4 separate regions of the Homo sapiens genome follow, and regions 1, 3 and 4 are each linked to region 2. Evidence: fine-mapped expression QTL. A gene starts in region 2. Each other region holds a variant in brackets. All regions are shown on one strand. Distances are from middle to middle.

Region 1 (8,106 bases), 130 kb after region 2:
TGCTGACTGGTTGGGGATGAAATCATACAGGTGTGGAAAATGGTCTTTATGCACTGAGTCTGCCTCTGGGTGAGGGCCACAGAACTTGTTGAGTCATGAATCACTGGTCCAAATGGGGTCAGCTGGTTGCCAGAATGCAAAAGTCTGAAAACCATCTCAAAGACCAACCTTAGGTCCTACAACAGTGATATTACCTATAGGAGCAACTGGGGAAGTCACAGATTTTGTGACCTCTGGCTGCAGGACTTCTGAGCAGTAAGGGATGATAGAAATCATGCCTACATTTTAGTAGAATTCAGACTCTTCCCACAGTTAGCTTTGCAAAGGTAGCTTCAGTCTCTGAACGAGGAGGGGATTAGTTTTTCTGTTTTTTTTTTCTTTTTTTGAGACGGAGTCTTACTCTGTCACCCAGGCTGGAGTGCAGTGGTGCAATCTCGGCTCACTGCAACCTCTGCCTCCCGGGTTCAAGCGATTCTCCTGCCTCAACCTCCTGAGTAGCTGGGATCACAGGCACCCGCCATTATGCTCCACTAATTTTTGTATTTTTTAGTAGAGACGGGGTTTCACCATAAAGGCCAGGCTGGTCTCAAACTCCTGACCTCAGGTGATCCACTTGCATCAGCCTCTCAAAGTGCTGGGATTACAAGCATGAGCCACCACACCTGGCCAAGGGAATTAGTTTTATGGAAGGACTATTAGCATCCTTGCTTCAAAGTTAAACTATAAACAAAATTCCTCCCATGGTTAGCCTGGCTTATGCCCAGGAATGAGCAAGGATAGCCAGCCTGTGAAGCAAGATGGAGTCAGCCATGCTAGATTCCTCTGACTGTCACAATCTTTGCAAAAGTAGTTTTAGGAATGAAAGTGCAACATGAGAAGACAAGAGGATGACGGAAGCAGGATTGATGTGTGTGTGTGTGTGTGTGTGTGTGTGTGTGTATATACATATATATATATATATATGTATATATATACACATACACATTTTATTTTAGACAGAGCCTTGCTTTTGTTGCCCAGGCTGCAGTGCAATGGCATGATCTTGGCTCACTGCAACTTCTCCTCCCTGGTTCAAGTGACTCTCCTGTCTCAGCCTCCCGAGTACCGAGTAGCTGGGATTACAGGCACGCGCCACGATGCCCGGCGAATTTTTTGTATTTTTTTTGAGATGGAGTCTCACTCTGTCACCCAGGTTGGAGTGCAGTGGTGCGATCTCGGCTCACTGCAAGCTCCACCTCCTGGGTTCAGGCCATTTTCCTGCCTCAGCCTCCCGAGTAGCTGGGACTACAGGCACCCACCACCACACCTGGCCAGTTTTTTTGTATTTTTAGTAGAGACGGGGTTTCACCACATTAGCCAGGATGGTCTCAATCTCCTGACCTTGTGATCCGCCCGCCTTGGCCTCCCAAAGTGCTGGGATTTCAGGCGTGAGCCACTGCGCCTGGCCCAAATTTTTTGTATTTTTAGTAGAGACGGAGTTTCACCATGTTGGCAGGCTGGTCTTGAACTCCTGATCTCAGGTGATCTACTGGCCTCGGCCTCCCAAAGTGCTGAGACTACAGACGTGAGTCACTGTGCCCAGCTTGATGTATATATTTTTAAATTATTATTATTGTTATTGTTTGAGACAGAATCTTACTATGTTGCCCAGGATGGTCTTGAACTCCTGACCACAAGTGATATTCCTGCCTCAGCCTCCCAAAGTACTAGGTCTCCCTCTCTTGCTCAGGCTGACATGCAGTGGCACGATCATAGCTCAGTGCAGCCTCACACTCTTGGGTTCTGGCAATCCTCCCACCTCAGCCTTCCAAATAGCTGAGACTACAGGCATGTGTCACCAGACTGGTTATTTTTAAAAATTTTTTGTAGAGACAGGGTCTTGCTATGTTGCTTAGGCTGGTCTTAAACTCCTGGGCTCAAGACATCTTCCCACCATGGCTTTCTCAAAGTGCTGGGATTACAGGCATGAGCCACTGCAACCAGTCAGGACTGACAAGGTTTGAAAATTTTATGTGCTTTGCACTTTGACTCTCATGATAATCTGGAGAAGTGGTTCTTATTTTACCATTTTTAACAACGAAGAAACTGAGGCATGGCTGCAAAATATTGGCCAATTGTAGATCCACTTACCAAAATAATAATACCTTATAATGAAAGCATTACAATTAGTGGTGTAAGGGAGCCAGCTCAATGCAGCTCACAAGACCTGACTGTGGTATCAGTTCCCAATCTGCATCTGGTGACATCATGTTGACAGCTTGAAATTGGCCACCATGAGAGCATTTACACCATGGAAATAGACACGTTACAAATGCTTTTTCTTCATAGAACCAATTGTTAAATGTCTGCTGGCACACTATTCGCTACCATCTAAATGCGGGGTGCAATGTTAATTAAATCTAATTGCTTATTGAAGAGATGGTGGCAACCCAGTTGGAGGCAGAGGGGCAGTGGGGATGGTGCAGAATTCCAATGGCCTGGGTTAGACAATGCTATCTAAGTCCGTCATTTGTAACTGCTAGGGGTGTAATTTCCTCTTTCATCTCCACTTCCTTCCCACTTTCCCCACATGCAGCTCAAGCTTATGGTGTGAGATGTGTGACTTCCTTAAGATAGGATCGAGAAAGTAGGCTGTTTGGGAAGCAGACTGGTGATCTGTTCTATGGAGAAGCTAAAGGGGTAGCCTGCTTAGAGACTGACAGCCATGGTCTCCATTAGAAAGGACTGAGTGGGACCTTTGTCCCAGGAAGAGACTAAACAAGGAATTAATATGTTCTCTCCATTTGGGGTCTAGACCTACAAAGGTTATTTATTTATTTATTATACCCAATTCTCTTACAAAAAGAGAAACTTCAGTCTCTCTTCTGCTGGATTCTGGATGCTGAAGAGTCTGTTGTTTTCTAGAAGGTGAGGAGGTGGATGATGATTTGTTAAGAGCCTTCTGTCCTCGCCAGCCCCGCTGCCTTGCTCTAGTCTAAACCTAGGAGTTCAGGTCAGACAGAAACAGCTTCAAGACTTATCTGTCCAGCAGCTCTGAGGGCAGAGAGCAGTCTGAATTGAGTTAGGAGGAAGCTGTGGGTTGCCATCACCAACAGTTTTCAGGTCTTTTGCAAAAGACTTAACTCTACCGTGCTTTCCAAAGACTTTAGTGTACTGTACATATTGTAACTTATGCAATAGCCTCTTCTTATGATCACTATTAACACAAGTGACTTCACTTATGGCCTTTTCTCTGGGCATGTGTGCTATTTATTGCTTTTTAATTGGGGAATTAGGATATGCTTTAAAATGCCAAGATTAAAAATTGGGGAAAGATATAGAGAAAATTGTCAGCAATGGACACTTATGGGATATTGGTCTAGAAATTCAATATGTTTTATATATTTGTACATTTCTAGATACTGTCAATATTATCTTTTCCCTTTCCTTTATTTCCTGGGTTAGTCATTTTAATACTGCAGCTAGTGTCTGGGAAGCCACCATTCAAAATAAAAGCTAAGATCTTTAAAATAATTTACATTTAACTACTTGGTTCCCTCACTCCTGCCTCATCCTCTGTCCACCCATGATCATCTTCCTCCTGAATTCCATGTTCCTCATACCCTTGCTTTCCTTTTTATAGAGTTTTATTGCACATATTCCTAAAAAGTGTATACTTTTATTGTAGTTATTCTAAATGTTGTGAAAAAGGTGTGGATAATATTGTATGTAATCTTTTGGCACTTTAGTTTTTAGTTACCATTTATTAAACTAATGAGATTTATCCAATTGTTTGGTTCATTCATTTTGCCTGCCATCTAAATGTTTTACCAAAAGTCTTTTGTACATTTTAATAACAAATAGTTTAGATTTTAAAAAGTAATGTAATTGTCGGAAGGAATATCACGTGTATTAGCAAATTTAAAAATAAGATTTGTATATTGCTTTGGTGGGAAGTAATATTGCCCCTCTCCTGTTAATGCCCAAATTTTCAAATCCTGAATTTTTGATGCCCAGTTGTATTAGTCTATTCTCATGCTGCTAGGAAGAAATATCCAAGACTGGGTAATTTATAAAGGAAAGAGGTTTAATTGACTCACAGTTCCACATGGCTGGGAAGGCCTCAGGAAATTTACAATCATGGCAGAAGGGGAAGCAAACATGTCCTTCTTCACATGGTTGCAAGAGAAAGAAATGCTGAGCGAAGTGGGGAAAAGCCCCTTATAAAACCATCAGATCTAATGAGAACTCACTCACTATCAGAAGAACAGCATGGGGGAACCGCTCCCATGATCTGATCCCTTCCCATGAGGTCCCTCCCACAACACGTGGGGATTACAATCTGGATTACAATTCAAGATGAGATTTGGGTAGGGAAACAGAGCCAGACCATATCACCTGTGTTAACACTTTAATGCGCTCCCTTTCCTCTTTGCTTTCTAATCAAGAAGTCAAGCTTAATGTAGGTATTTATGTAAAGTGTAACATACCAGAAATAACTTGAAGGGTAGTATAACAACATTCTGCATGATTTGTATAAAGTTTACATTTTAAAGCTACCAAGGAACCTTTCAACTTTCTATTTGATTATACTTTGCAAAACATTATACAGCTTAGAACAACTGAGCACCCAGTATTTTCTCTCACCTTAATCTACCATGGTCCTCCAACTCCCAACTAAAACTGTACTAATACATTAGGTCATTAAAATTTCTAAATCATCTTAACTCTTTTATTTGCCATTTTAAATATTTGTGTTTAGTAAGGTATACACATCTTCATTTGTAATTCAAAACGGCATTTTACAGAGTGCTTAAGCAAATCAGTGCTGAAAAAAATTTTCCTTATATCTATGGTAACCTGTGGAGAACTGTGTGAAAGGACTCTCTGGGGCCTCTAGGCTTTCCCAGAAACCCAGTTACTTTAGGTTGGCTGTCCTCGTCACCTCTGCCCAGGAAAGGCCCGAGGCCTGACTAGGCCCCCAAGGAGCCAGCCCCCTCCCGAGGCACCTCCCTCCCAAGGAGACACATCCACGTGGCATGGAAACTTTTCGGTAAAC[A/G]CTCAAAAGTGAGAGCTGGTTCCCTTACCTTGGAGGGGACATTCAGGGATGGTAAGAGATAAGACGTTTCTAGGAAGAAAAGAAAGGGGAAGTGAGAAGATAAAAGTCTTCACATAAGAGGCAAATGAGAAAAGCATTTTCTGCCAAATTGTGAAAAGTGAAAGAAATGAAAGCAAGCTTGCTTTGGAGACAGAAATAAACACTAGGCAAAAAGAAACAACTTTTCCATAAAGCGTTTTGTAACAGTTAGGAAAAACTCAAAGGTAATCCATGATATTGGTCCAGGGATGCCTAGAACAAGGTCTGCTTAGGTGACTGGAAAAGACACTTGCCCCTGTGAAGAAATTTCAGAGGTACCAGGAAAGTTCCCTGACCCCCAAATGCCTCAACTGTTTGGTTCATGACCCGCACAAAGGCCTGAGGCTGAGAGGCTTGTGGGATAGAGACCCAGCTTGCTCTCCACTAGTTAACCTGTGTCCTACGGCTGCTTTCAGCAGGAGGAGGGGGGACACCTGTGTCAAGTGCTGTGTGTGCCCAGATGAGGCCTCTTTCTAATCTCTGCAAAGCTCTCCAATTCCAGAAAGACAATTCATAAAGAATGGGTCATCCCACCCATTTATTCTGGGCAGAACCACGAGACCAGGTTGCTGAAGGGGATCTTGAATCTACTCTGCAATTTTGCCCAGGGTGGGCCTGGAGCAGAGAAATGAGGAGAGAAGTTAAGCAATGGAAGCAAGAGCAGCTGGGGCCTGCCAGGACTGAGCTGAGGATGTTCATGATTGGCTTCCATTTGGAACTCAGCAAATGACTGAGGCTGCCCATGGCTTACCATTGAGAGAAGGCCACACCAAGGCCTGGGAACAGCCAGCTATGGGCAGATCAGGCCAGCACCTCCTAAACCAGCCTGTACCTCCACTTCTCTGTGCTGATTTTCCTTCTACTCTCTCTAATGCTTATTAAAGTTTCCCCAAGACTCTACCAGTTCCACTTATCAGAGCAACAGTGGGTATTGGGTCATGGTGGAGGCAAGGGGACACAGGATGAATTGAGGCTTGTAGGTACTGCTGGCTTTCCCTACTTGCAGAAGTTCCTCTGGAAATCATCATTATCATTATTATTTTTGTTCTTTTTTTTTTTTTTTTTTTGGAGAAAGGGTTTTGCTCTGTAGCCCAGGCTGGAGTGCAGTGCTGCAAACATGGCTCACTGCAGGCTTGACCTTCTGGGCTCAAGGGATCCTCCTGCCTTAGCCTCCCAAGTAGCTGGGACCACAGTTGTCAGCCACTATACCTGGCTAATTTCTTTGATTTTTGTAGACGGGGTCTTGCCGTATTGCTCAGGCTGGCCTCCATCTCCTGGGCTCAGGCAATCCTCCTGAGGCCTTGTCCTCCCAAAGTGCTGGGATTACAGGCACTTTTTATTAAGGGAGAGGCTATTTCAGCTCTCTTTTCAGACTGGAGAATGCCTTTTTCAGGGCTTTTTGATGGTGCTGTGCCACTGAATACTTCCAACTTGGAATAATCGTTGAGTGATGACTTTCCTCAAAGGTTTAAGAAAAACTACATTAAAATAAATAAGCAGGCCATGTGCAGTGGCTCATGCCTATAAATCCCATCACTTTGGGAAGCCAAGGTGGGAGGATCGCTTGAGCCCAGGAGTTCAAGACCAGCCTGGGCAAAAAAGCAAGACTTTTTCTCCTCACAAAATTTAAAAATTAGCCAGATGTGGTGGCACTCACCTATAGTACTAGCTACCTGGGAGGCTGAGGCAGGAAGATGGCTTGAACCCAGGAGTTCAAGGCTGCAGTGAGCTGTGATCATGACACTGCACTGCAGCCTGGGCAACGGAGCAAGACCCCGCCTCAAACAAAACAAACAAAACAACAAAAAAAACAAAAACTGGTTGGGAATGCCTACAATATTAGAAATACAGGAGTTATTATTTCTAGGTTCCTGGGTTGTAAGGCTTTCAATTTTTTTTCTACATGCTTTTCTTCATTTTCTAAAATGTAAATTAAAGATGTTTCCAATTCACTTTTCTGTCAGATTAAAACCCCAAGTTTTGCCTTTAAGGTTTCATTTCTAGAAGTGGTTCAGAATATAATGCTGAAGTTAGCTCAGTTACAGTAACTGGGGATTTCCTCTAGTCTCTGGCTGTTCATGTGGAAGTTGTGTTGTCATTTCTTTCCTTTTCTTTTCTTTTCTTAAGCCATCACAGTGACACCTGGCTATCTTGGCAAAGAAGAATAACAGGACAACTATTGTCTATCAAGAATTTTAGCCAGGATTTCCCCAGTCTGCTCCTCATTTTTGTGATTTTGTTGGTTCCTTTGATGAGAACTTTTTCTTGAGGTTTTAGGCAGACTTAATTTAAAGCATTGATCTCATCACACTTTTTTAGCTTCTGGTTAAAAATAGAACATCTCACGTAATTTCCAAGGAAAATCAGTTCTGTCAAATCTCATTGCTAATTCATAAAGGGCATTTGACTGTTCAAATAGAAGAGTATGGGAATCCAATGGATATTTCCGAAGTTACCATTTTTTAAAGGAATTTAACACCCCATCTTGGTCAGCCATGTGGATCTGAATCAGTTAAATTTAATCCAATGGAGATAAATTTGATTTTGCATGAATTAGAGCAGCATTTGCAAAAAAGCTCTTGACAGAATGTTTTATTCATATTCAGTACCAGCATCTTTTGCTTTTCTTTTAAGGTTGGTAAGAAAAGGATTTCAATCACACATTGTAGGCAAATGTCTTATGTGCTTTAATGTGTAAGGAGCATAAGTTGTTATTATGATAATGTTAATAAGACTTTTCATGTAGTACATTTTGGTTGACATTTAATCCCAATTGAGAAAAACCTAAAATTAATTTTTGTAAGAAACAAGACCAGAGTGGCTCATCAGGCTTAGAAGTGGGACTAATGGTACTATAATCAGACTGATGAGCTGTTAAATATCTGATGTGAAAACCATATCATGAAATGATAGGAAAGAATCTGCACAAAAGTCCTTTTGAATTTGCTCCTTGTCCTTTATTTTGCAGTTTGTTCAAAAGGCTTATTACC
Region 2 (8,106 bases):
CGGATAAATGGAAATATTCCATTTATGCCAACCAAGTGCAGGGTGGCACAGAATTAAGAGGGAAAAGAGGGCCGGGCGCGGTGGCTCACACCCAAATCCCAGCATTTTGGGAGGCCAAGGCGGGCAGATCACAAGGTGAGGAGTTCCAGACCAGCCTGACCAACATGGTGAAACCCCGTCTCTACTAAAAATACAAAAATTAGCCGGGCGTAGTGGCGCGCGCCTGTAGTCCCAGCTACTCAGGAGGCTGAGGCAGGAGAATCACTTGAACCTGGAAGGCGAAGGTTGCAATGAGCCGAGATCACGCCACTGCACTACAGCCTGGGCGACAGAGTGAGACTCCATCTCAAAAAAAAAGAGTATTATGAACACAACTAAGAATTGCATCATGTTGTAGAACAGAATTTATATTAAATATTTGATTATTCCAGCCACTATTTGTGCTATAAAGCACAGATGGAACACCTTTATTGGATTCACATTATATTTCATACCTATTTTGCCAAAAGTGCTAAAAATGTCAAATAATTAACCCCTGTGTCTTCTGTTCCTCTAGAAACAGGATTTACTATTTTATCTTAAAAAGCAAATTAACCTGTTTCCTTAATATTAGTCCATTCAACCAGCAAGGACTGATTGCATGCCAGGTGCAGTGGATATTGGGTAGGCAAGACATAGTCTCTCGGGAGGCTAAGACAGGAGAATGGCTTGAACCAGGGAAGTGAAGGTTGCAATGAGCCACTGCACTCCGTCCTGAGTGACGGAGTGAGGCCCTGTCTACAAAAAAAAAAAAAAAAAAAGAGAAAGTGGTGGTGCAGGATTCAAATCCATATTTGACCCCAGAATCCACTATGTGCTATGCCAGTCTGGTCTCAGGTCTGCCCTTAGAAATTGTAGGCATTTTCCGGGCACGGTGGCTCATGCATGCAATCCCAGCACTTTGGGAGACTGAGGCGGGCGGATCACCTGAGGCCAGGAGTTCGAGACCAGCCTGGTCAACATGGTGAAACCCTGTCTCTACTAAAAAAATATAAAAATTAGCCAGGCATGGTGGCAGGCACCTGTAATCCCAGCTACTTGGGAGGCTGAGGCAGGAGAATCGCTTGAACCTGGGAGGCAGAGGTTGCAGTGAGCCGAGATCGTGCCATTGCACTCCAGCCTGGGAAACAAGAGCAAGACTTCGTCTCCAAAAAAAAAAAAAAAAGAAAAGAAATTGTAAGCATTGCTCCTCCCTCAGTATTCTCAGAAGAGAACCAGCATCAAATGAGGGAGTTTTTCATACTATCTCATGAAAGCTATGAAAACTGAAAGTTATAACTTTCCACACATACATCAATTTATGCAATCAATCTGTTTCAAAATCATTCTATACCACACTTTCTCTATAAAATGGAAATTGGCCATGTGTCTCAACAAAAAGTTCAGGATAACTGGTAAGAGTCTCAATTTGTTAGTGGCGTGAGTTATTATTGGCTAAGGTTTTTTTTTTTTTTTTTGAGACAGAGTCTTGCTCTGTCATCCAGGCTGGAGTGCAGTGGCACGATCTTGGGTCACTGCAACCTCCGCCTTCTGGGTTCAAGCGATTCTCCTGCCTCAGCCTCCCGAGTAGCTGGGACTACAGGCGTGTGCCACCATGCCCAGGTAATTTTTTGTATTTTTAGTAGAGACGGGGTTTCATCATGTTAGCCAGGATGGTCTCGATCTCCTGACCATGTGATCTGCCTGCCTCGGCCTCCCAAAGTGCTGGGATTATAGGCGTGAGCCACTGCACCCAGCCGTGGCTCAGGTTTTATTAGCAAACAAACTATGAAAAACCAGGAGAAGTGGATAAAGAATAGGAAGAAAGAATCACAAGCCAAAAGAACTGCAAAGGAAAAATCAGGCAGTTTTCTTGAGTTTCTAGCTGTACAGGAAAAGGGTAGGGTGGAGACCTGTAAAGAGAAGTATCTTACCTGTGTTGGGCCTCCAGTTGTCAAAGTCCTGGGCAACACCCCCGGTAGGATGCCCAGGGGGAACTCCTGGGCAGAGGTGAAGGGCTTTGCTACGTGAATTATCCAGTCTCATTAGCTGGTGATGAAATGGTTCACAAAGCACAGATTCTGAGTGCCTTGCCAGTTTTGGGAATTATTTGGAGACTGATATTCTTTCACGTATCACACAGTGGCAGAGAAGGTAATTACCTTCTGGTTGCTGGCACCTTCAGTGGAAGAGCAAATATTAAGTGAGAGCTACTACTCTGAGGCAGGCAGTATTCTAACACTTATATATACAATAACTCTTTAATAACTAATTAGTAATGATGTTATTATCTCCATTTTATAGATGAAGGAACTGAGGCTTTTTGTCTCCAGCAAAATTAGCAGAGCCACGGTTTGAACTCTGGCAGTCTGTCTTTAGAGGCTGTCTTATCCTAGGAATACCACCAGTTAGTTCAACAAGCAGCTTGTGGAGGACATAGTATGTTCCTTGCCTTGGAACCCGGCACTCCTGAGTCACAAACAGTCCATTTTTTTCACCCGGAAAAGGAATGGAGAAGCTGGGCCAGACTATTTCTTTTTTCTTTTTTTTTTGAGACAGAGTTTTGCTCTTGTTGCCCAGGCTGGAATGCAATGGCCTGATCTCTGCTCACTGCAACCTCCACCTCTCAGGTTCAAGCTATTCTCCTGCCTCAGCCTCCCAAGTAGCTGGGATTACAGGTATGAGCAACCATGCATGGCTAATTTTGGATTTTTAGTAGAGACTAAATTTTAGTAGAGACTAGATTTTAGGTTTCACCATGTTGGTCAGGTTGGTCTGGAACTCCTGACCTCAGGTGATCAGCCCTCCTCAGCCTCCTAAAGTGCTGGGATTATAGGTGTGAGCCACCACGCCCGGCCAAAGTATTTCTATATAATGTGGTACACTGTTAAACAGGAAAGTCCACTGGTGCTCGACAGAAATTCTTGTGTTCCCAAGCACATCTTAAACGTGCTTGGAAAGTTACTGAGCTAAAGTGACTGACCTTGAAGGCACAAACCAATTCAGTCACTATTCAGTCAACAAACCTACTGCAGATTTCATTGTCACTTTGCTTCCCTGAAACTTACTTTGTTTTAATGAGACTGCCACGCAAAAGTGAAATTTAGACAAATTTAGAATCTTACTACTCTGTGGTTTACTTTAAAGACCGAAAAATGCTTGGGCTAAACCTTAAATAAAAGTATTAAGTCTTGCAATTAAAAATTGAACCAAAAATACTAACGAGAGTGTTCTGCAAAACTGAAATTTAAACAAATTTACAACCATACTAGGTTTGGTCTCTGCTGTTTGCTTTAAAGACTGAAAAACACTTGGGCTAAACCTTCAATAAAAAGATTAAGTCTTGCAATTAAAATTTAAACTCAAAATACTCCACCAGTAAAATTACTTCAACTTTTGTTGTATGCTTGAAAGTTTTCACAATAAGATGGATAGGAAAAAAGTATTCCACCAAAATCTAAAGAGTGATGACGAATCTCCTCTTTGTGCCGGTTCATTAAATTGCCTAATGGCAACTACGGATAAGTAAATGCCTTTATCTCGAACGGTTCTGCTCTTTAAACGAATGACGGGCAACAGAGACCGAAAAAGTGTATCCCCAGGAATTCGAGAGGGACGGTGAATTGTAGTGGGACCGCCAGGAGGGGAGGTTCCTGCCCCCGAGTAGAACCTGGGAGCAGAGCCGCTCGGGGAGGGCGGTGGGGGCTTCAGGGCCGCGGAGGGGGTCCCCTCAGGGTGGGCCGTCTCCTCCTCGCCCGCCGCAGGCAGGAGCGCGGGGGACCGAAACCCTGTAGTTTGCAGCGTCAGGCAGCGGGTCTGCGCCCAGCGAGCGGCTCCCCAGCTCCTGGGAAGATGCGGACCCGGGACGCCCCCGTGAGCTCACTGCGCCTGGCTGACACGAGGCGCTCACAGAACAAAGCAAGGGCTTCGGGGAGGGCGCGGCCGCGGGGCCGAGCGCGCAGATCGCTCCGGACCCGGACACCGCCTGCGAGGAGCGCCGACCAGCCGGGAAGGGTTCGCGCTAGGCGGCGCCCGGGTCCCGTCGGCCAGGGTGAGCGTCCGGCCCGCGTCCGCGCCACGCCCGCCGCGTTCCCCTTTCCTCTGCGGCGGGCCGAGAGATAACCCTGCCCGAGGGGTCCCGGCGCCCGCCCCCCACGCGGTCGCACTGGAATTCGCAGCCCCTCTCGGGTCCCCGGGGCGCATTTTGCAGTCTGAGTGGCAATGCACTTGCTCCAGGACAGGCGGCTACCCCGCCGCAGCGGAGGCGCGGACTTTTCTTTTGGGGGGTAAGATGGCAGGTCCCGGGAAACAAAGGAAACTTGGGCCCGGCCCCCAGCGCGGCGTGTGTGGCTCGCGTGTGTGCCCCGGGTCCTGTGCCGGAGGCGCTGGGCGCCTGTGCCAGCCTGCCCGCAGCCCGCAGCCGGCGCGGGGATACCAGCCGGGTACCAGCAGCCGGCGGCGCCCGCCCACCTGCAGCGGCGCCCGCCCGGGGGGCTCCCGGCCCGCGAGGGCCGGAGCGGCGGTGGCAGTGGCGGCGGCGGCGGGGGCGCTGGGGAACCCGGAGCGGGGCGGGGAAGGCGGGGAGGCGGCGGGCGGCGGCGGAGGGGAGCCGGGGTGGGCGGGCGGCGCCACGTCACGGCTATTGTGGCTTTCCTGGTATATAAGGTCTCGCCGGCTCGCCGCGCTCCCCACCTTGCCTGCGCCCGCCCGGAGCCAGCGGTTCTCCAAGCACCCAGCATCCTGCTAGACGCGCCGCGCACCGACGGAGGGGACATGGGCAGAGCAATGGTGGCCAGGCTCGGGCTGGGGCTGCTGCTGCTGGCACTGCTCCTACCCACGCAGGTGAGGCCCTGGCGCCCGGCGGGGCTCGAGGGCCGTTCCCGGGGTGGGGGCAGGGGAGATGGACCCGGTCCCGGGGGACCGTCCTGCGCTCCTGCCTCGGGCCACGGACAGGGACCGGGAGAGAATCTTGCTTAGCTGACCAGGGGAGAGGGCCATGTGGACCCCATTTTTCCATTCCCTTGCGTGCTGCCCCCCCTCCTCCCACGGCCCTGGGAACAATGCAGCTCCGCGTGCGGGCTGAGAGGACCCTGCCCCACCCCAGGTTCCACGCTGTCCCTTCCCAGGCAGCCAGGTGACTACTTCCCACTTTCACCCAGAGGCCCGAGGTGCCTGCAGGGATTAGCGCCTGGAGAGCTCGGGCTCCCTGGGGACGTTGTCCCTGGGTCCCTGAGGACTCGCTTTCCCCTAGGAATGTCTTCGCGCTCCCCGCGCTCTACACAAAGAGAGGCGACGGTCCCTTTCGGGGAGGGCGGCTCACGCCCATCCTCCACCCTCGGAGTTGGATTGGGTATCCCGGAGAAGCTACGGCTATCTGGCCCTTTTTAAACAAACCCCGGTTCCGGGCTGAAGCCGAGGCGGGGACCCTCTCCTGACGCTGCGCTCTCTGCGAGGCAACCTTTCACGTCCATCGCTTGTCATCTTAGGATCCCCATGTTATTTTAGCCCAGATTGGCTAGTTCTGGGGAGGCAGCATGGTGGGACGATTCTGTCCCGAGTCCCCGCCAGGCTTTGTTCGGGTCGCCGCTACCAGCGCGGTCTCCCTAGATCCTCCATCCGGGGAACCTCGCCCCGGGTGCGGGTACCCGGGGCCGCGCAGCGCTGCCTCGAGGGTGTATGGATGCACCGCGCCGGCGAGAGAGACCGGGGGCTGGGCCTGGGAGACCCTAGCGGGGGCGGGGGCGAAGAAGGTACGTTTGTTTGGGTCAGTTCGGGTTTGGAGGATGGGAGTGACGGCTCTCCAGCGCCTTCGATTGGGGTTAATCGAGGACTGTCACTGGGGCTTCTCCCCCAAAGTTGGGCGCGCTGCGTCCTCCGTCCCCAGACATCGAAAGTCCGGGCTCACCTGGGAGTGCAGCCTGAGTGTGGAACGCGCTTCCCCACCGCTGGCGGGGTAACCGTACCCTATTGTCTTCCTCCCAGTCCGCTGCGCTCCCGAGCCTTCCTCAATTCTTTGATGGGGGAGGGGCGCGGCTGCGAGAAACCGGCCCCCTCCACTCCCCGCCCCATCTTCTCTCCGACCAGATTTTTTTCCTCCAACATTGTAAGTGAGAAGTTTTAATAATGCGAATAAATCTAGCTTGGGAGAGAAAATTTTGTTTAGTGTCAGTTTAATAAACATAATTTTTTTGTTGGTGTAGAGGATCTTTAGATCCTCAGATTGATACACCAGGTTTTAAAAAGAAAACATCACCTGCTGCAGTAAAACTCATTGCATGAATAAAGAACAGGTTACTTTGCGGGATCCCAAACAAGGTGTCCAAAACAGGCACCCTGTTTTAAGTAAATTACCATATTAATGCTTTTCTTTATTGGGAGTGCCGTTTCCTGATGGGACACACTAAATCTTGCACACAGTAGGTGCCCGATAAATAAATTTGACTTGATCAAGATTTTTTTGTTGTTGTCACTAATCTATTTTGGATAGGATTTGTACATTTCTGTAGTCAATATTTGTTTAATGACCTTATGGATTTTACAACAAAAGGAGCTGGTGCTGATGTAGGAGGGCTTTATCTTTGGATTAATAGGCAGCCAAATGTACACGGGGCCCAGACTCTTGCCTGGTGCCACGTCCTCCCTCCAGCCTGTAATCAGAAGCTCTTGTAAACCCTCCCTTGCAGTGAGGGCTGAAAACTCCGATCTGCCTTTGTTCCATGACAAAGGAGAGATTATCACGTGCCCTACTGGACTGTGCATTTCGTGGCTTGAAAAATCAGTGGTGAATGATGCCACTCAGACGCTGGGACACTGGGAGAACCTTGGTTCTTGGCCACAGCAATGAGCTTGGCGACCAGTGAGGCTGCTGCTGGTGAAACTTAACACCATAACCTCTCGTTGTCTTTTGTGAAATCGTTCCGACTTCATGGTGTTTTCTTGAAGTCATTCTGCCTTAAAGGAAAAACTCATTTTCTTTTTCAATTTAACACAAATATTGTGGCCATTTTTTAGAAGAGTTACTATTTCAAATTTCAAGGGAGAAGATAAGACTGCATTTCCCCCTTAAGGAAAAGGCTAAGTTACCAAGGCTGTATTAAATTGAGTATGTGAAAGTTACCTAGCAAATCCAGGATAGACAGTGACCCAATGAATTCTAGTTCCATAAGTCTCAGTTACAATATTTAAAAATCCCCATTTTTTTGTGCAACTTTAAAATCTCCCCCTTTCTGGGAAAATAGACCTTATTGCAATGCCATTAAGTCAATATAATCTTGGAAACTGAATTAGTTAACCTGGTCCTTTTTTCCTTTGCAAAGAAATAAAAACAGGAGTTATAGTTATTGAATAACTTTTTTGTTCTTGTTGCCACTTGGCATTTTTGAGGCATCTCTAGGTAGTTTGTTTTGAAACTAAAGAGAATGACCTTGGTGGGTTGAGCAAGAATTCAGAAGTTAATGATGTTGGGTAAGAGAACAATGGTAAGAGAGCAATCTAAGAATATATCACCTACTTTAATTTTATATGAGAGTACATGGAGGTAGCTGTGATGTGGAAATGTATCCATGTAACTTTTTATGTATTTTAGATTTATTCCAGTGAAACAACAACTGGAACTTCAAGTAACTCCTCCCAGAGTACTTCCAACTCTGGGTTGGCCCCAAATCCAACTAATGCCACCACCAAGGCGGCTGGTGGTGCCCTGCAGTCAACAGCCAGTCTCTTCGTGGTCTCACTCTCTCTTCTGCATCTCTACTCTTAAGAGACTCAGGCCAAGAAACGTCTTCTAAATTTCCCCATCTTCTAAACCCAATCCAAATGGCGTCTGGAAGTCCAATGTGGCAAGGAAAAACAGGTCTTCATCGAATCTACTAATTCCACACCTTTTATTGACACAGAAAATGTTGAGAATCCCAAATTTGATTGATTTGAAGAACATGTGAGAGGTTTGACTAGATGATGGATGCCAATATTAAATCTGCTGGAGTTTCATGTACAAGATGAAGGAGAGGCAACATCCAAAATAGTTAAGACATGATTTCCTTGAATGTGGCTTGAGAAATATGGACACTTAATACTACCTTGAAAATA
Region 3 (8,106 bases), 870 kb after region 2:
TTCAAACATTGAATATCTCTTAAAATATTTTACAGAATATACAGCAAAATTAATTTCATGATATCATAGACTCTTCCTCAGAATCAGACGGGCTCTCCAGATCTGCCTAAATACACAGCATTTCCAAGGAAGCCTCAGGAACATTAAAGAACATGAAACACTAAAGACCTAGGAAAAGCTCACCAGAGCATCTTGTTCATCCTGTGCTTTCAAACACACGGATTCCTCTCTAAGCCCTGCAAGGATGGGGACTGCTCCCTCCCATGGGAAGGAATCCATTGTGTTACAAACCCTAAATGTAGGTGTTCGTCTTGGTGACTTAAACCAAAGTCCCCTCTGCAACGCTTTAATTTCATTTCCTTTGTTCTGCTCCTTACCCACAATGGGGAAGAGCTGGTTGCCATCATCCACAGGTGAATCCTTAAGACACCTGAAGTTGGGGAACTTTGCCACAATTCCATGAGAACCCCCTTTGTTAACATATTGAAGAATTTCTTACCAAGATTAGCCATTGCTATTTATCTGTCATTTCTCCTTTCTTTTATGACGGGGGTAGGGGAAAACCACAAGATGACTACATTCATGTTTATGCTGAATAAAACCTATCGAAAATTCAGAGAGAAGGAAAAGTGCACACAGCCAACCCTGGTTCATTACTTGTCAAACCTGGAAGGAAGAGCAAACTAGGAGAGGGTTTGTTAGTTTATAGTATGCTGTAAAACTGGGAAAGGGAGAGTGACTATTTGCATAAATTCAGTTAAAAATAACTTTTTGGAATCTTGCTGCATTTTTGCCTGAATTACACGATTAAGACTGTATTGAGATTAAAATCACTTTTCACTTATTTAAGGAGCAGCTGTCAGCAGCACTTTGAGCAAATGAACTTGGGTTCTGAGGACTTGAAGCTTGAAAAATGATGTTAGGGAAGCTTATCCACCAATCCTAAAACATTTCTTGTAGCCACTTCATACCCAGAAGTAGATTTGATGGCCACTGTTCATAATGATCTGATTTCTTCTGGCCAGAAGCTGAGAATGAAATGACATGTTATGGACAAAGAACTCCATGATCTCTGAAAGGAAACAGAAGTGCCTTCTGGACTGGTTCAATGATCACATTCTATCTAACTCTTCTGTTCATCAATTCTTTCAGCTGCTGCCTTCTGTGGTACAGCCTTCCTTTCTAGACCAGATTATCCTGGAGGCCTGGTTTTGCATTAGAAATTATCTGCCATGTGCCTCTAATTACTTTCATTCCTCTGTTCTGGCCTTTTCTCATTATCTCCTTTTAGAGAAGGCATCTCTCTCTCTCTCTCTCTCTCTCTCTCTCTCTCTCTCTCTCTCTCACACACACACACACACACACACACACACAGAGGAAGGAATGAGCTCATTTATACCAACTTACGGATCCTAAATTGATTTCATTTCCCCCAAGGAAAAAATATCTAGAAATGTGCCTATAGACTCCCACGGTGCTGTATATTCTATATATTGCCTCATGGTAGGGAATTAAATGCATCATTTCTGCACAGAGTTTTTATTTTGTTGAAGGTAAACTCAGAAAAAGGTGGCTTCTTCAGTCTTACTTTGTCCTACAAACAGCTGGATGAAGTCTTGATCCAACAGTATGGACTTTGGCTGGGTGGACTTGGGCTCATTAGTGAATATTATCTTTTTATGTAATGTTTCATTAAACAGCTAAGTCCATAAGTGTTCCCAAGATATATAACTCTCAAGAAAAAAAAAGAAAGAAATGATTTGCCAAGTAAAGAACTATGATTTATGGTAGTTAGCTGTTACTCTCAGGATCCTATTGGGCTTTGTTTTGAAAAATTATTACCACAATGGTTCTGTAGAATTTAGGAATATAACCAGCGCCGTTTGGCACGTTTATGACAATAGGGTTCTGGTTTTCTTAACTCCACAGTTACATGTTGGCAGAATTTCAAATTCTGGGCACAGATGTTTAAGTGAATTTAAAGAAGAAACATTAAAAACAAAGCATCAGGCAGTTTTGAGTGTCCAAATGTAAGCAGGAGCATTATTTTCTTAACATGCAGTCAGCATGCGCATAAAACCATAAATTTGCTAATAGATGAAATGGGAAGCATGAAAACCACTTGCAAAGGGCTTTTAGATTTTCTTTTCACTGAATGAACTATCACTTTTCTAGAAGCATCTCCTACTTACATCTATCAAATGAGACTCGAATTTATGTGAGCCTTTTCTCTGGACACAGGTTAGTTTCTGGAGCGTGAATGGCTAAGCACATAGACTTGTTCCCATCACATAGGGCCACATGGCCATACCACCAAGATACCTGGCTCTCACACTAACAACGCTCAGATTCTGGGAAAGCAGCTTTCTGGAAACTTTTTAAATGCACAAGTAGGCTAGGTGCGGTGGCTCATGCATGTAATACCAGCACTTCGGGAGGCCAAAGCAGGAGGATTGCTTGAGTCTAGGAGTTGGAGACCAGTCTGGGCAACATAGTGAGACTGTCTCTACCAAAAACAAACAAAATTAGCTGGGCCTGGGGGCACGCATCTGTAGTCCCAGCTACTCGGGAGGATGAGGTGGGAGGATGGCTTGAGCCTGGGAGATAAAGGCTGCAGTAAGACATCATCGTTCCACTGCATTCCAGCCTGGGTGGCAGAGCAAAAACTGGTCTCAAAAAAAAAAAAAAGAAAAAAAAAAAAAAGGACAAGTAGCAAATAGCAAACGTGCTTACATGTGAAGGAGTAAACATGGGTTGTAGGGCACTCCCCATGGCCTGCCCAGAGGAAGCTACTGAAGCCGCTGTCACCAATGGGCAAAGTGTTCCCTGACCCAGCTTCCCAGGGCCCCACACCCATAAGTGTGCTGAGTCTCCACACACGCACACAGACTGGCACAAGCTAGCAGGGCATTTCTGGAAGTGATCCAAGTCCTCCTTATCTGCTCACCACCCCATGTCCATTGACGAAATAAAATGTAAAAGTTCACAAAGCAAACAAATCGTCTCCCACTTACTGGCTGATGCTTGAAATGCTTCCTTTAGAGAACATTTTTATAGTTCATAAAGAAAAATCTTAGTTATGAGAGACAAATCAATGCTGTCAGATCACGCACAAATATACTCCTGGAAGGAGCCGGGGGAGATCAGGGCACCCCAGAGGGTGCTGCAGAAGAACAGGGGTGGGGGCAGGGGAGAGACAAATTGCATTGTGTTCAAAATTTGTTCTGGTGCCATCTGTACAGTATGGAGATGTCGCTCACTGACCCTTCACTCAAGACACTAGACAAATTTTGGTAAAGCATGAACATTTATATTTAATTTACATTTTGACAATTTGCACATAAATAACATTGTAAACCAGTATGTAAACATAAGATAGTTTGTTGTTCTAGCAAAGTAAAAAGCCAGTAACTTTGGTCAGTTTTAACTTTGAGTAGAGGAAAAAATAAAACCACTGTTGATTGTGGGCTCAACATTCACATGTAAGAGGCAGAAAAGAGAAGGATGGATGGTGAGAGAAGCAAGAAGTCTTTATAAAAATTCTCACTATGGGAAAGCACAAAAGGAGAAAAAGAACAAACGAGTAGTTGGGAATCAAAAGTATTTGGTCTAATGTCAACGTGATGCTTTGGTTTACCTTCAGTTAAGGACTGTGTTTATCAAACACTGATACATAAAAAGCTGTCAGTCTTGGAAGTTACAGAAGACCAGTAAGGCTCTTGGGTTTCCCTGGATTATTCGAAATTTGTTCTCTTCTACAGGTGAACATTAGTTGATGTGAACAAAATGTCAAATATAATTATAAAATAGATTGGAGTAATGTATCAGTATTTAGTAAGGAGGAAAACAGAAAAATTGCAGCGGTAAAGTCAGTTTTTTATTTCTGTGACTTGGGTGTGACCACATAATCATAAAGTGGCAAAAAAAAAATAGAGCTGTCTTAGATGGTCCTTAATACTAAAAAATGATGTATCTCTTCCTCCCTGGTTGTTTTGTGGTCCCCACCACTGCACCAAGGTTTTAGGGTCTCTTACAGTAGGCAAGGGTGCCCAATCATACCGACGTGATTGTGAGGTCACCAAGTATTAAGCAAAGTCTCAGAAAGGAGTGTTCTTTTTTTTTTTTTTTTTTTTTT[G/TG]CCCTTAGAAAAAGTAGATCTTTTACATGGCTTGGCTCACAATTTAAGTGGTTATAAATATATATACATATGATATAGTGGTATAAATAGATTTATAAATATACATCATTTTTTGCTACACTTTGAACACCAACATGTAATCTTTGGGCTTAGCAGAATAAAAGATAGAATAACACAAAGTCTATCTTGCTGGAGCACATTTACTCGGTTTCTCCTCTAGAGAAGCAAATCATTAGATAAGACATCATTTCCTGCACTACTGGACACACTCAATGAGGTAACTGTTGTTGAACAACTTTGCAATGCCCTTTCATCTTCCATTAAATTAACCATAAAATGTAAAAACACAAATACTGAGGAAAATCTGAGTTTTACAGAAAAAATACAATTGATGTGTTGGGGATAGGAATGTTCATTACCCGCTTTTACCCCAAGATGACTAGAATACCCGTTTTTTGTTGTTTGTGTGTTTGTTTTTAAAGTGTGGCCTGAGCCTATCTACCTCGAATCCTTCCTGGTAGAGCACCATGTTTGTGCAATTTTGACATTAAAAAAAAAAAAAAAAAAAAAGCAACAAAAACCAACAACAAAACACCACCCAGACTCAAGCCCCCAAATCGCACACACACAAAGCCACCTATGCTTTGGGGAAATTTTCGCAGTGGTTTTAAAACATGGCATTTTTTTCTTCTTCACATTTTCTGATAATACAATGGATGCAAAAGTCATGTGGCCGCTCTGAATGGCCACAGGACTCGGTGGGGAGGGCAGGGCGGTGGGAGGATTCTGCTCTTTTGGAGGGAGAGACAGGTTGGTAAAGCCTTCCTGTCACCCTTCCGGTAAAATTGTGGCTGGGGGAAAAACATGAACTATCAACAAAAATATACAAGATTCCCTTTCTTGTTTCTTCTACTTAAGTTATTCTTGGGTAATCCTGCACACATACCCCCAAGTTATGTACAATGCTGTTCAAATGATAGGATCCCAGGAATGAACACATCAACTGTCCAACATTGGCAATTACCCAAACCTCATTTTCAAACCATTATTAGAGAGAGAGGTTGACTGAAGTCATATATTTGTTTAACTAAATCTTAGGTACTTATACAGATGTGCAGAAATTATCTACAAAGAATGGCCACAAGACAAAAATACATTTATACTCAAATTACAAGGAATCTTTCCAGTCATTGTAAACTTTTTTAATTATTGCTTTCTGAATGATAAATTGTATAATAAATTATGAAGGATTATCATTGAAAAAATAATTATGACTAGGTAATAGTCTTAGTAATGGGAAGGCTATGCAAACATGTCCACACAAATATTCAAAATACACAGGGGCAAATATATAGACACAGGTGTAAATAAGTATATATAATATGTATACAGATATATATATATATATATATATGGCCTTTGCCTTGTTCATGCCCTGAGATTTCAGTAACTTTGGAGTTCCTTCTTTAATTCCAGAGGTGAGGGGAAACCATTTGCTGTCGAGAGAGCTTTGCAGAGCTGGGATTATGTACAAGCCACTTCCTACAGGCACCCTGACTCACCAAGTCATAACTTAAGAAACAAAATAAGTGTTTTCTGAAAATCTTAAGGATCCATTGGTTCAACTGTTTCTTGTTTGACCTTTACAGGTACCAGAGGTAGTGGGTTGCTGGGAGGCAACTTCATGAGGGGTAGATCTGATGACTCATAAAGGCTGCACCCTGAGGAGAGGAGTCCATTCCCCATGTTTCTTTGCAAAGACACTTTCAGGCCAGTTTCTTCTTTCTCTTTTCTGACCACGGCCAGAATTTCCTTCTCCACTACAGAGATCACACTGATGTCATCCTCCACGTCCTCGAGCCGGTCAGCATTGTCACTGATGTCAAACTTCTCGATTTCTTCATTGATTCGGGTCAGATCTTCCAAGGGCAGCCCAGGCGCCGGGGCCGCAGCGCAGTTCCCTTTCAGGTGAACCTTGAGGCTACAGAGATGGATGTAGTTCTTGTGGCACTGGGAGCACTTGTGGGGCCGCTCCCGGGTGTGCAGACGCTTGTGCAGTTTCAGGTGCACAAACTGGGTGAACTTGGCAGGGCACACCTTGCATTGGTATGGTTTCTCTCCAGAATGGAGTCGCAGGTGGGTCTTGAGATTGCTGGTGCTGCTAAATCTCTTGTGGCAGACCTACAGTGTAGGGGAGAGAGACAGCAGGGAAGGGAGACAGGAAGGCCAGAAGATTAAGAGTTGCCAACGGGAGGGGCAGGCTTACCGGCCAACGCCCAGCAACCTAGGAGGTGAGAAGCCTCCTTGTGGCACCTCCAGTGTGGTATTAAGCAAACGGGGGGATGTGGGCACACAGCACACGAGGGGCTGTTTATTTCCCCTACCATTTTCCCACCCACTGGAAGCTGGCTGTGCCATCTCAAGTCATCAGCAGATACAAAGTACTGGGAAGGACCATAGTGCCATCAGTCCAGGATGGGACAACGCAGAATCTGGTGTTGGCTTTAACTACGGGCTATATAGGACATGGGAGGGTGACTCACAGACATTTTCTACAAAGGTCAGAAGGTCTACCCAGAAAATACTGCGCACCTGGCATTCATGTGGCTTTTCTCCCGTGTGTACCAGGTAGTGTTTCTGCAGGTGGGCGAGCTGAGTAAAGCCCTTGTTGCAAGTCTGACATTTGAAAGGCCGTTCTCCACTGTGCACTCTCAGGTGGACCTGGGAAGAAGCCACATGTGTTAGCTCTGCTCTCAAGCTGGCTCTGAGACCTAACATTTCTGCTCCAAGACTCAAGTGTTGATGCAAATATCTTAAGAAAAGCATCAAGACAGTCTTAAAAAGAAGAAATCTTCATGTTTTCAGAATGGTGTTTTTCTTAAAAGCACAAAAATCACAGGCTAGCAGGGAGTTTCACCTAATCTTCTAGTCCAAACCCCTAATTTTTTTATTATTCAGAAGAAAATCAGGAGAAGGGAAGTCACTTGTCCAAAGTCAAAGAGCTAGAAGTGGCAAAAGCCAGGCGGAATCCATACCCACTATCCCCAACCGGGGGCTCATACTACTGCAAATGCAATCGATACCCCATGGAAAGCAAGCTAAATACAAACACAAGCATGCACTCACAGCCCCTTGGACTGCTCTCTCTCAAGGCCTACCTTCAGATTGGAGAGCTGGCCGAAAGTCTTGGCGCAAACGTTGCATTCGTACTTGATCTTGCCGTTCTGCTTCTTCAGCGGGTAGGGAAGGGTCTTGTAGCCGGTCATGTTTCTTTTGTTTTTAATGAGATTCATGGCTTCGTCGCTGCTGGGGGCTGCCATCGCTGCTGAGGTAGCTTTGGGCTGCACCACATGTTCTGCCGTGGCGGCTGTTCCCGCCGTGGGAGACCCGCTTGTGGGGCTACAGGCCTTGTCCTTCATGCTGGCGGCGGCCCCGGTAAAGGAGAAGGCACTGTGGGGCGCCGGGACAAGCACCTCCCTGGGATGCTCCGGCTGGAGCAACCTCCGGGCTCCATCTGAGGGCAGCGAGCTCGGGAGAGAAGTGGGGTTGAGCATGGGGTGGGGCAGGCTGCCCCCACCGAGGAGATTGCTGTAGACAGGGCACAGCCTCGGGAAGAGGCCAAAGTTGTTGATGCCATTCATGCTGCTCACAGCGCTCAGGCCATTACAATTCATGCCGTAGGGGGGCAAGAGGAACTTGGGGTAGTGAGCGTTGTACGAGGGGATGAAAGCTGGCGGGAGGTGGGGCAGGGGTGCGTAGCCAGGGTAGGAGCCCAAACCTTCCGTGCCGTAGGACGCGTTCAAGTAAGCGTAGGAGTCCCGGTGCTCTTGAGAGCCGGGGCCCACAGGGGACACCGTATTCCCAGGGCTGCTGTGAGGGCTGGAGCTCTTGAGGCTTTGGTCGGGGCTGCTTCTTGCAGAGGGGCTTGGAGTGGTGGAGGATGGAATGGGGGAGCGAGTGATGTACGTGGG
Region 4 (8,106 bases), 290 kb after region 2:
CTTGCGGTCCTGGAGGGTGGACATCCAAGATCAAGGTGCCAGCAGAGTTGGATTCCCCTCAGGTCTCTTTCCTTGGCTTGCACATGGCTGCTCTCCTGCTGCCTCTTCACACAGTTATCCCTCTTCGGGTGTGGACCCCTGGTGCCTCTCCCTCTTCTTACAAGGAAATCAGTCAGATTACATTAGGGCCCCACCCAATGACCTCATTCAACCTAATTACCTCTTTTTAAAAAATTAAAAACAAATAGAGGTGGGGTTTCACTATGCTGTCCAAGTTAGTCTTGAATTCCTGGGCCCAAGTGATCCTCCCACCTCGGCCTCCCAAAGTGCTGGGATTACAGGTGTGAGCCACTGTGCCCGGCCACCTAATTACCTCTTTAAAGGCCCTTTGACATACAAATTTTGGAAGGACATAATTTCTTTCACAACATCTTGTTTGCTTGCACTGGGTGACAAGTAACACCCTTTCTTCCCTGCACCCTCTCTTTCTGCCAGTTCCTAGGATTGTTGAAATAAGAATGGGCTGTAAACAGGTGAGGGAATTGTACAGGGAGCTTTCGTAGCTTTCCTTTTTCTGTTTGTCAGAAGGAAAAGAAATTAGATTTCAGAGTCATTTGACAAGGGGTGGGAGGGGACAAGGAAATAATTAATTATTAGTAATCTTTTCAGAAGTTCTGTAAATTTATTATAGAGGAAAACCCGTGGGAGGTCACATTACAGTGTTTTCATTTGAATCTAGGACAAAGAATGGGCTTGGTAGCTATAGTTTCTCTCCAAGTCTAGGAATGCATAACATTTGTAGGTTTTAGTCTCCAAGGGTGTTTTGTGTAGCAGTAGAAGCCAAATTCATTACAAAGGAGAGGCTGGAGCAAGTTGTCATGTGATGCCGCCGACTTGGTGAGTCAGGACTTGCCACCGAAGCCCAACTGCCTGGCAGTCCCCTGCCAGGATAAACTCCAGCAAAAACCCTTTAATGACCTGCAGAAACCAGATGGCAGGCTTTGCTTTTCAAAGGAAAGAGATCATGTCAGGACCTCTGGAATTAAAAGTCCAGATTATTTTAAAAGGACTGGATATAATACTATTTGTGCAAAAGATTTTTTTTCTATATTATGTAAGTTTTTCAAGGTGCATACGATTATTCAGTAGTCTAGAAGAATATACACTATAGAAACAGATCAACCATGTTTCCTCTGGATGGTGGGATTACAGGCTCCTTCTTTTAATTTACTTGCATTTTCTAATTTTTTAATAAAGAGGTTGATATTCTTAATAATAAAAAAAGGTTTTTTTCAAAGATAGGAGCATTTTCAATTTGTTATTTTAGTCTTTCATTTACTCTACTAGCACTTGACAGCATAGAAATATCACCTTTGTTCAATGCCACAGATTAAAATGTGTTTAACTACCAATGTCTTAGATGAGAGTGACTGGAAGTGATGACTTTAGTGTGGCTCTGGGAGACATATCTTCTGTATGGCTATGGTTACTGGAACTCTATGTTTCACGTCCAGGAGAAACAGGTAGGTCTTCTAATCTCTCTGAAGGAAGAAATTTCCTGATAGCTTAAAACCTGATTTAACCTTAGCCAACCAAGATACTTTATTTGAAATGCAATTATGTTTACTTGCTTTCTTTATGAGAATGGGAAATGACATCAGAAAGAAATGATATCGTATGTTTTTGCCTTTACTTTTACGTCAAGGACTACTGAAATCATTTAGTTTCAGAAGCATTTTATCTATAATAAACACCATCATGAATGCAGGCTTACATTTCCTTTTTAGGCTGCCTAAATACTTTTCTCTTCAAATAATAGCAAATGGAACTATTTACACAATTGAAGCAATTCTTTAATATTGAATATGTAAATTTATCAAGTTTTCCTTATATAGGTATTTCTACTGTGTTTTTGAGAACCATAGAGGTTTTTCATGGAAAAGGACACATCCAGAGATACTGGGAGAGTATGTGTATGATTTTCAACCAAAGACTTAGCTTTTAACAAGGATAATTTTCTTAACTATATAAAAACCCTTATTGACCAAAAATAAGAAAAAGCTTGAGTTAAAATAAGAAAAAAAATCTTAGGGAATACACTTAAAAACTGCTCCTCGGAGCTGGGCCCGGTGTCTCACGCCTGTAATCCCAGCACTTTGGGAGGCCAAGGAGGGCGGATCACAAGGTCAGGAGATCGAGACCATCCTGGCTAACACAGTGAAACCCCCGTCTCTACTAAAAATACAAAAAATTAGCCGGGTATGGTGGAGGATACCTGTAGTCCCAGCTATTCGGGAGGCTGAGGCAGGAGAATGGTGTGAACTCGGGAGGTGGAGCTTGCAGTGAGCCGAGATGGTGCCACTGCACTCCAGCCAGGGCAACAGAGCAAGACTCCGTCTCAAAAAAAAAAACAAAAAGCTGCTCCTCAAAACTTTATTTTAACTTATATTTCATACATTTGATTTCACAAAAACTCACTGAGCTTATTTTGCAGAGGTATGCAAAAGTCATTCTTGTTAGCACAGTGATTGATTCTTTTACTTAATTTATTTTCCTTCATAGGGAATATATTAATTTCCCAAGTCCACTGGAAAACTAGCAATGATAAAACTACATCATTTAGCTGGGCGTGGTAGCTCACGCCTGTAATCCCACCACTTTGGGAGGCCGAGGCTGGCGGATCACCTGAGGTCAGGAGTTCAAGACCAGCTTGACCAATATGGAGAAACCCCGTGTACTAAAAATACAAAAAATCAGCCGGGCATGGTGGCGCATGCCTGTAATCCCAGCTACTTGGGAGGCTGAGTCAGGATAATAATTTGAACCCGGGAGGCAGAGTTGCAGTGAGCCGAGATCATGCCATTGCACTCCAGCTTGGGCAACAAGAGCGAAACTCTGTCTCAAATAAATAAATAAATAAAATACGAAAAATTAGCTGAACGTGGTGGCAGGCGCCTATAAATCCCAGCTACTCGGGAGGCTGAGGCAGGAGAATCTCTTGAACCCCGGCGGTGGAGGTTGCAGTTAGCCAAGATCGTGCCATTTGCACTCCAGCCTGGACAGCAAAAGCGAAATTCTGTCTCAAAAACAAAAACAACACAACAACAAAAAAGAACGACATCATTTTAAAGCTGTTTTCTAGTCCAGAGCAATTTCTAATTAGACTTTGTAAAAAGTTTTATTTTATTTAAATAAATAAGTGGGTTTATTAATTTGTCAAGGACCTCACGAAAGTGTTATACTTTTAAATGAGGTGCCAGAATAAAAGACCAAAACACTTAATATGCCCAATGCATGTTCACTGTTGGCACACGGAGCTTTCAGAGAATGACGAGTCCATGGTGTGGAGGGAATGGAGTCTCTGGGTACACACGAAAGAGTTCCCATTCTGTATTCTTACACTTAGTTACTTACAAACCTCTTTAGTGATGGCCTGCTGGGTTCCTGTCTTAAGATTCAGTGTAAATGCAGCAAGTCCTATGTTATCTAGTCTCAGCTTAAGCCAACACCACTGACCAGAGCAACCAATGGGAAATGCTAATGACTCTTAGGCACGCGTGGTAAGTTTAAACATAATGTATGGTTCGTGACTAGCCTGGGCAGCATGGTGAAACCCCATCTCTACAAAAAATACGAAAATTATCCAGGCGTGGTGGTATGTGCCTGTAGTCCCAGCTACTTGGGGTGGTGTGGGGCTGAGGTGGGAGGATTACTTGAGCCCTGGAGGTTGAGGCTGCTATGAGCTGAGATCACACCACTGCACTCCAGCCTGGGTGGCAGAGTGAGACCCTGTCTCAGACAAATTTAATTTAATTTAATTAACAAAAAAACCCCAGGCCGGGCGCGGTGACTCACGCCTGTAATCCCAGCACTTTGGGAGGCCGAGGTGGGAGATTCACAAGGTCAGGACATTGAGACTATCCTGGCTAACACGGTGAAACCCCGGCTCTACTAAAAATACAAAAAAATTAGCCAGGCGTGGTGGCGGGCGCCTGTAGTCCCAGCTACTCGGGAGGCTGAGGCAGGAGAATGGCGTGAATCCGGGAGGCGGAGCTTGTAGTGAGCCGAGATGGTGCCACTACACTCCAGCCTGGGAGACACAGTGAGACGCCATCTCAATTAAAAAAAAAACAAACAAAAAAAACCCCACAAACCCATAATGTATGTACGTGCAGGAGCCAAATGTCCTTCATAAAAATTCTGTTCAGCCCCTGTGAAAATAAAAAAGTATTTTTACATTTCGACTGCGAATGTACTGTTGTAGCCTGCAGCTTTTATTTCTGCATTTTTATTTTAAAAAATTAACGGCTTACCTTCAGAGCAATTGTATGTTACATAAGACACAAAGTCCCTTTCTAGCCGACTCCACATGCTTTCTGTTTCACTCCTGGGTTAACACATTCTTCCTAACACTGAACATTTGTCTATGCCGGTGTTTGAGACAGGAATTGAAACACTTTTGCAAATATGAATTCACATGCCACCACAGGAGTTCTGGTTAAATGTGCCAGTTAGACAATTATGTTTACTATCACTCCCTCTGGAAACAACTCCTAAATGACATTAAATAATTTTAAAAGGCAATGTGATTTTAAAAGTCAGAAAAACAGAGAACAAAAGAAAAAAATGAAGTAGCATAAAAAACTAGAAGCTGGAAGTGTTTGCACTAAATGATTTAGGGCAAGGTTTCTCAACCTTGGTATTATTGACATTTTGAGCCATAGAATGTTTCACTGTAGATGGCATCTGTAGCAGCAT[T/C]CCTGGTCTCTACCCACTAGATGCCAGTAGCACCCCTCCCTAGTTGTGACAACCAAAAATGCCTCCAGTTATTGCCAAATGTTCCTGAGGGTAAAATTCCGCTGGCTGAGAACCACTGATTTGGGAAATAAGAAAAATCAAAATGTATCCCCAGGAAAAGTCTAGAACCAGGCTTACTCTGGCCAAAGGATGCCTCACTCACCTCACCCCCAACCTCCCAAAATAAAAAGCTCAGGAGCTAGAGGCACCAGGCAGAAAACAGCACTGGTTAAAAATCTGTAAAAGAGTTAGGTTGAATGCTCTGTATGTCCTCTGCTTTAAAGATTCATTCTTTAAAGAGGCTGAATCTTGGGGACTCCAGGGTTGACGACACCAGGCACAGCTGAGGGTGAAAGTTCCATACAGAATGTGGGCATTATATAGGAATCTACTAAACAGGTGTGGGATCCTAGCTCTTTGCTCAACTCAGCTCTACGAACACTGGCATCTAGGTACCTATTTTCTAGGGAGGAGACTGGAAGATTCTTCTGATAAAAACTGACCGAGCCATAAACAGAAAAAAAATCGATTGTCACTCAAATTTAATGAATTGGCCTGGCCAGATCACTCTAAAACCCTAAAGTAAAATCTACCAGTCAATGACCTCTCCCTCTCTTCTCCATACATATCTTCTAATCACAGGCTTTTCAATGCCTCACTCCCATGCAAATAGACAGCCAAGAATGGCCAAGCATTTAAAGAAAGCCTCCAGCATGGAAAAGAAAAAAAGAAACAAGAAGGAACTTAGAGAAAACAGAAATATTGGGGAGCAGATGCAAAGTTCAAAAATGTTTTAAGTGAAGCTTCCCTTCTCAGATCTTGGTTTCCAAATACCAAGGCGGGCCCCCACTGGACTGGGGGCACAGAAATATCCTCTTGTGTCAGAAAATGTAAAAATGTGCAAAGAATGATGAGGCGGTAAGACAGAACATAGAAGCTAGCTTGAAGCGGTATCCCCTGGCCAAAGGGAGGACAATTTGAGCATAAAAATAAATAAGAGTATAGAATTGTAAACCTTGATTACAATAGAAATCCATGAATCCATGATTATATAAACAAATAAGAGAAAGGGAAAACACTTCCTTTCAGTAGAATGCCAGCTAATAATTGTAGAAGGAATAATGGAAATAGATAATTACCATTTGGCAGCCCAATCTGTGGTAGCTGATAGAGACGAGGTCATCAATGGATGCTAAGGCTGGTAGGTAGAAGTTTGGTGAGGAACAGGTGTTGGCATAATCTCAGAATATTTCTGCACAAAATAACCAACCAAATGCAAAGGGAGGACTGGTGACTTTACAGTCGAGAAAACTGGCAGACTCCAAATACGAGTGATCAAGGGAAATGTCACCAGTGGTGGGACGGGTTGGCCTTGTATTCCTGATGCGATGGGCTAAGAAAGAGCACAGAATCACTGTTGCAGTATTCCTTCCAAGAATCTATGGCTCTAGTCTGGCCATGGGTAAACACTGGACACACCCAGGTGGATGATCATCCTACAAAATGAAAGGCCTATACTTTTAAACTGAAAGAGGGTGGACTGGGCACGGTGGCTCACGCCTGTAATCCCAGCACTTTGGGAGGCTGAGGCGGGCAGATCACCTGAGGTCGGGAGTTTGAGACCAGCCTGACCAACATGGAGAAATGCTGTCTCTACTAAAAATACAAAAAATTAGCCAGGCATGGTGGCACCTGCCTGTAATCTCAGCTACTCGGGAGGCTGAGGCAGGAGAATTGCTTAAACCCGGGAGGCGAAGGTTACAGTGAGCAAAGATCGTGCCATCATACTCCAGCCTGGGCAACAAGTGTTGCCGTCTCAAAAAAAAAAAAAAAAAAAAAAAAAGATATGAGAGAGGGTGAAACGCTGCAGAATTGTTCTGGACCGACACATAAGTGCAATGTATGTTTTCATATGGGATTCCTATACCTTAAAAGAAAAAGAGGCATTGTTTGGACAGTTGGTGAAATTTAAATGGGGTCTAGCAAAGATATCACATCTGGCCCAACAGCTGCAATCAGGGCTACTTCTTAGTCCACAGTTACCCTTCAAATTGTTTTTGTTTGTTTGTTTACAGGTGACAAAATGGTGAATTAAATGGAGACATGATGGGGTTCACCACCCCTGTATTCTTTATGTTTTTAAGGGTGGCACTCATTTCTGCCAGACCCTCTGTGATGCAATATTGTTTTTGCTTTACTATTTTGCGTGTGTGTGTGTGTGTGTGTGTGTAAGAGGGTACCAATTTCAGAGCTTTACGCTTGGCTGTATTCACCCTGATAGCTCTTACCCCACTGGCCAAAGAAGCAGTGTGGGGTTGTGTTAATTGCCAGGAATGTCTATTCCAAACATACATTCAGAGACTAGGAAATGACTATGGATGAGTGTGCAGACCCAATGAATTCACTGTAAGCCACACCTGAACCATAACTCCATTTATTACCAGGCCCCTCATATATTCCCCACCATGACCAACTGCATATATATTTTTTAAGGGGCCTAGCAGAAACTGAAAATACAGGACCCCTTGTTAAAAAAATTATTAAGAATTTCAAGCGGGTAACAGTAGAGCATTAAACCAATAATTAAACCACACATAGAACCTTCTAAATGCAAAGTCCTGTGTGGCTGCACACGTCGTACATCCACAAGGATGGCCCTGGCACCCGCTCTAACAGGGTCCCATGATGGTGGTTCAGGTCTCTGGGTATTACTGTCAACCTGGAGTCTGTGTCCAGCGGTCCTCAGAATGTTTGGATAGTCCCCTTTCTCCAGTGTGAAGTTACCAAATTAAATGGTTATTCACCTCTCTGAGGAAGAATCGGGAAATCAATACTGTGAATACTTGTGCCTTCCTGGGCACCCAGCCTCTCTTTCTGTCTTTTGTTTTTTGTTTGTCTGTTTGTTTGTTTTTGAGATGGAGTCTCGCTCTGTCACCCAGGCTGGAGTGCAGGTGTGATCTCGGCTCACTGCAACCTCTGCCTCTCAGGTTCAAGTGATTCTCCTGCCTCGGCCTCCCAAGTAGCTGGGACTATAGGTGTGCCACCACGCTTGGTTAAGTTTTTGTATTTTTAGTAGAGATGGGGTTTCACTATGTTGGCCAGGCTGGTCTCAAATTCCTGACCTCAGGTGATCAACCCACCTTGGCCTCCCAAAGTGTTGAGATTACAGGTGTGAGCCACTGCACCTGGCCCCAGAATCTCTTTCAATTCATGGGTTCTGGGACCCAAAACTGGCTCAGTTCTGAAAACTGGGCAAGACATCCTGACTTTTCATTGGAATGACTGTCCTGAACCTCCATCCTTGATTTG

Direction of the effects. Positions count from the first base shown, and alleles are read on the strand shown. Sizes are in standard deviations (SD) of each study's normalised expression. Not every link is listed here.
As copies of G replace TG in region 3, the expression in monocytes after LPS of the gene that starts at base 4,709 in region 2 goes down (moderate effect, 0.54 SD a copy in Fairfax 2014).

What was found.
Region 1: its variant is fine-mapped to the expression of CD24 in whole blood (TOPMed, PIP above 0.99).
Region 3: its variant is fine-mapped to the expression of CD24 in monocytes after LPS (Fairfax 2014, PIP 0.95).
Region 4: its variant is fine-mapped to the expression of CD24 in lung (TOPMed, PIP 0.98).

Annotation. Positions count from the first base shown.
Region 1 is chr6:106,844,256-106,852,361 of GRCh38, reverse strand. No RefSeq gene overlaps it. Among named protein-coding and RNA genes, the nearest start is that of LINC02532, 61 kb to the right of the region's middle. RefSeq lists enhancers at 5,410-5,459, 7,090-7,149. The variant A/G (reference allele first, on the strand shown) is at 5,039.
Region 2 is chr6:106,971,332-106,979,437 of GRCh38, reverse strand. It overlaps CD24 (CD24 molecule), which reads left to right and starts at 4,709. Exons shown (of 2, transcript NM_001359084.1): 1 at 4,709-4,860; 2 at 7,604-8,106. The coding sequence starts at 4,792. The coding sequence ends at 7,777. RefSeq lists silencers at 3,948-4,167, 4,208-4,357.
Region 3 is chr6:106,105,121-106,113,226 of GRCh38, reverse strand. PRDM1 (PR/SET domain 1) reads right to left here. Exons shown (of 7, transcript NM_001198.4): 5 at 7,294-8,106; 6 at 6,728-6,856; 7 at 3,289-6,316. The coding sequence ends at 5,741. Among named protein-coding and RNA genes, the nearest start is that of PRDM1, 23 kb to the right of the region's middle. RefSeq lists enhancers at 7,025-7,738, 7,739-8,106. The variant G/TG (reference allele first, on the strand shown) is at 4,136.
Region 4 is chr6:106,685,052-106,693,157 of GRCh38, reverse strand. No RefSeq gene overlaps it. Among named protein-coding and RNA genes, the nearest start is that of LINC02526, 6.4 kb to the left of the region's middle. The variant T/C (reference allele first, on the strand shown) is at 4,759.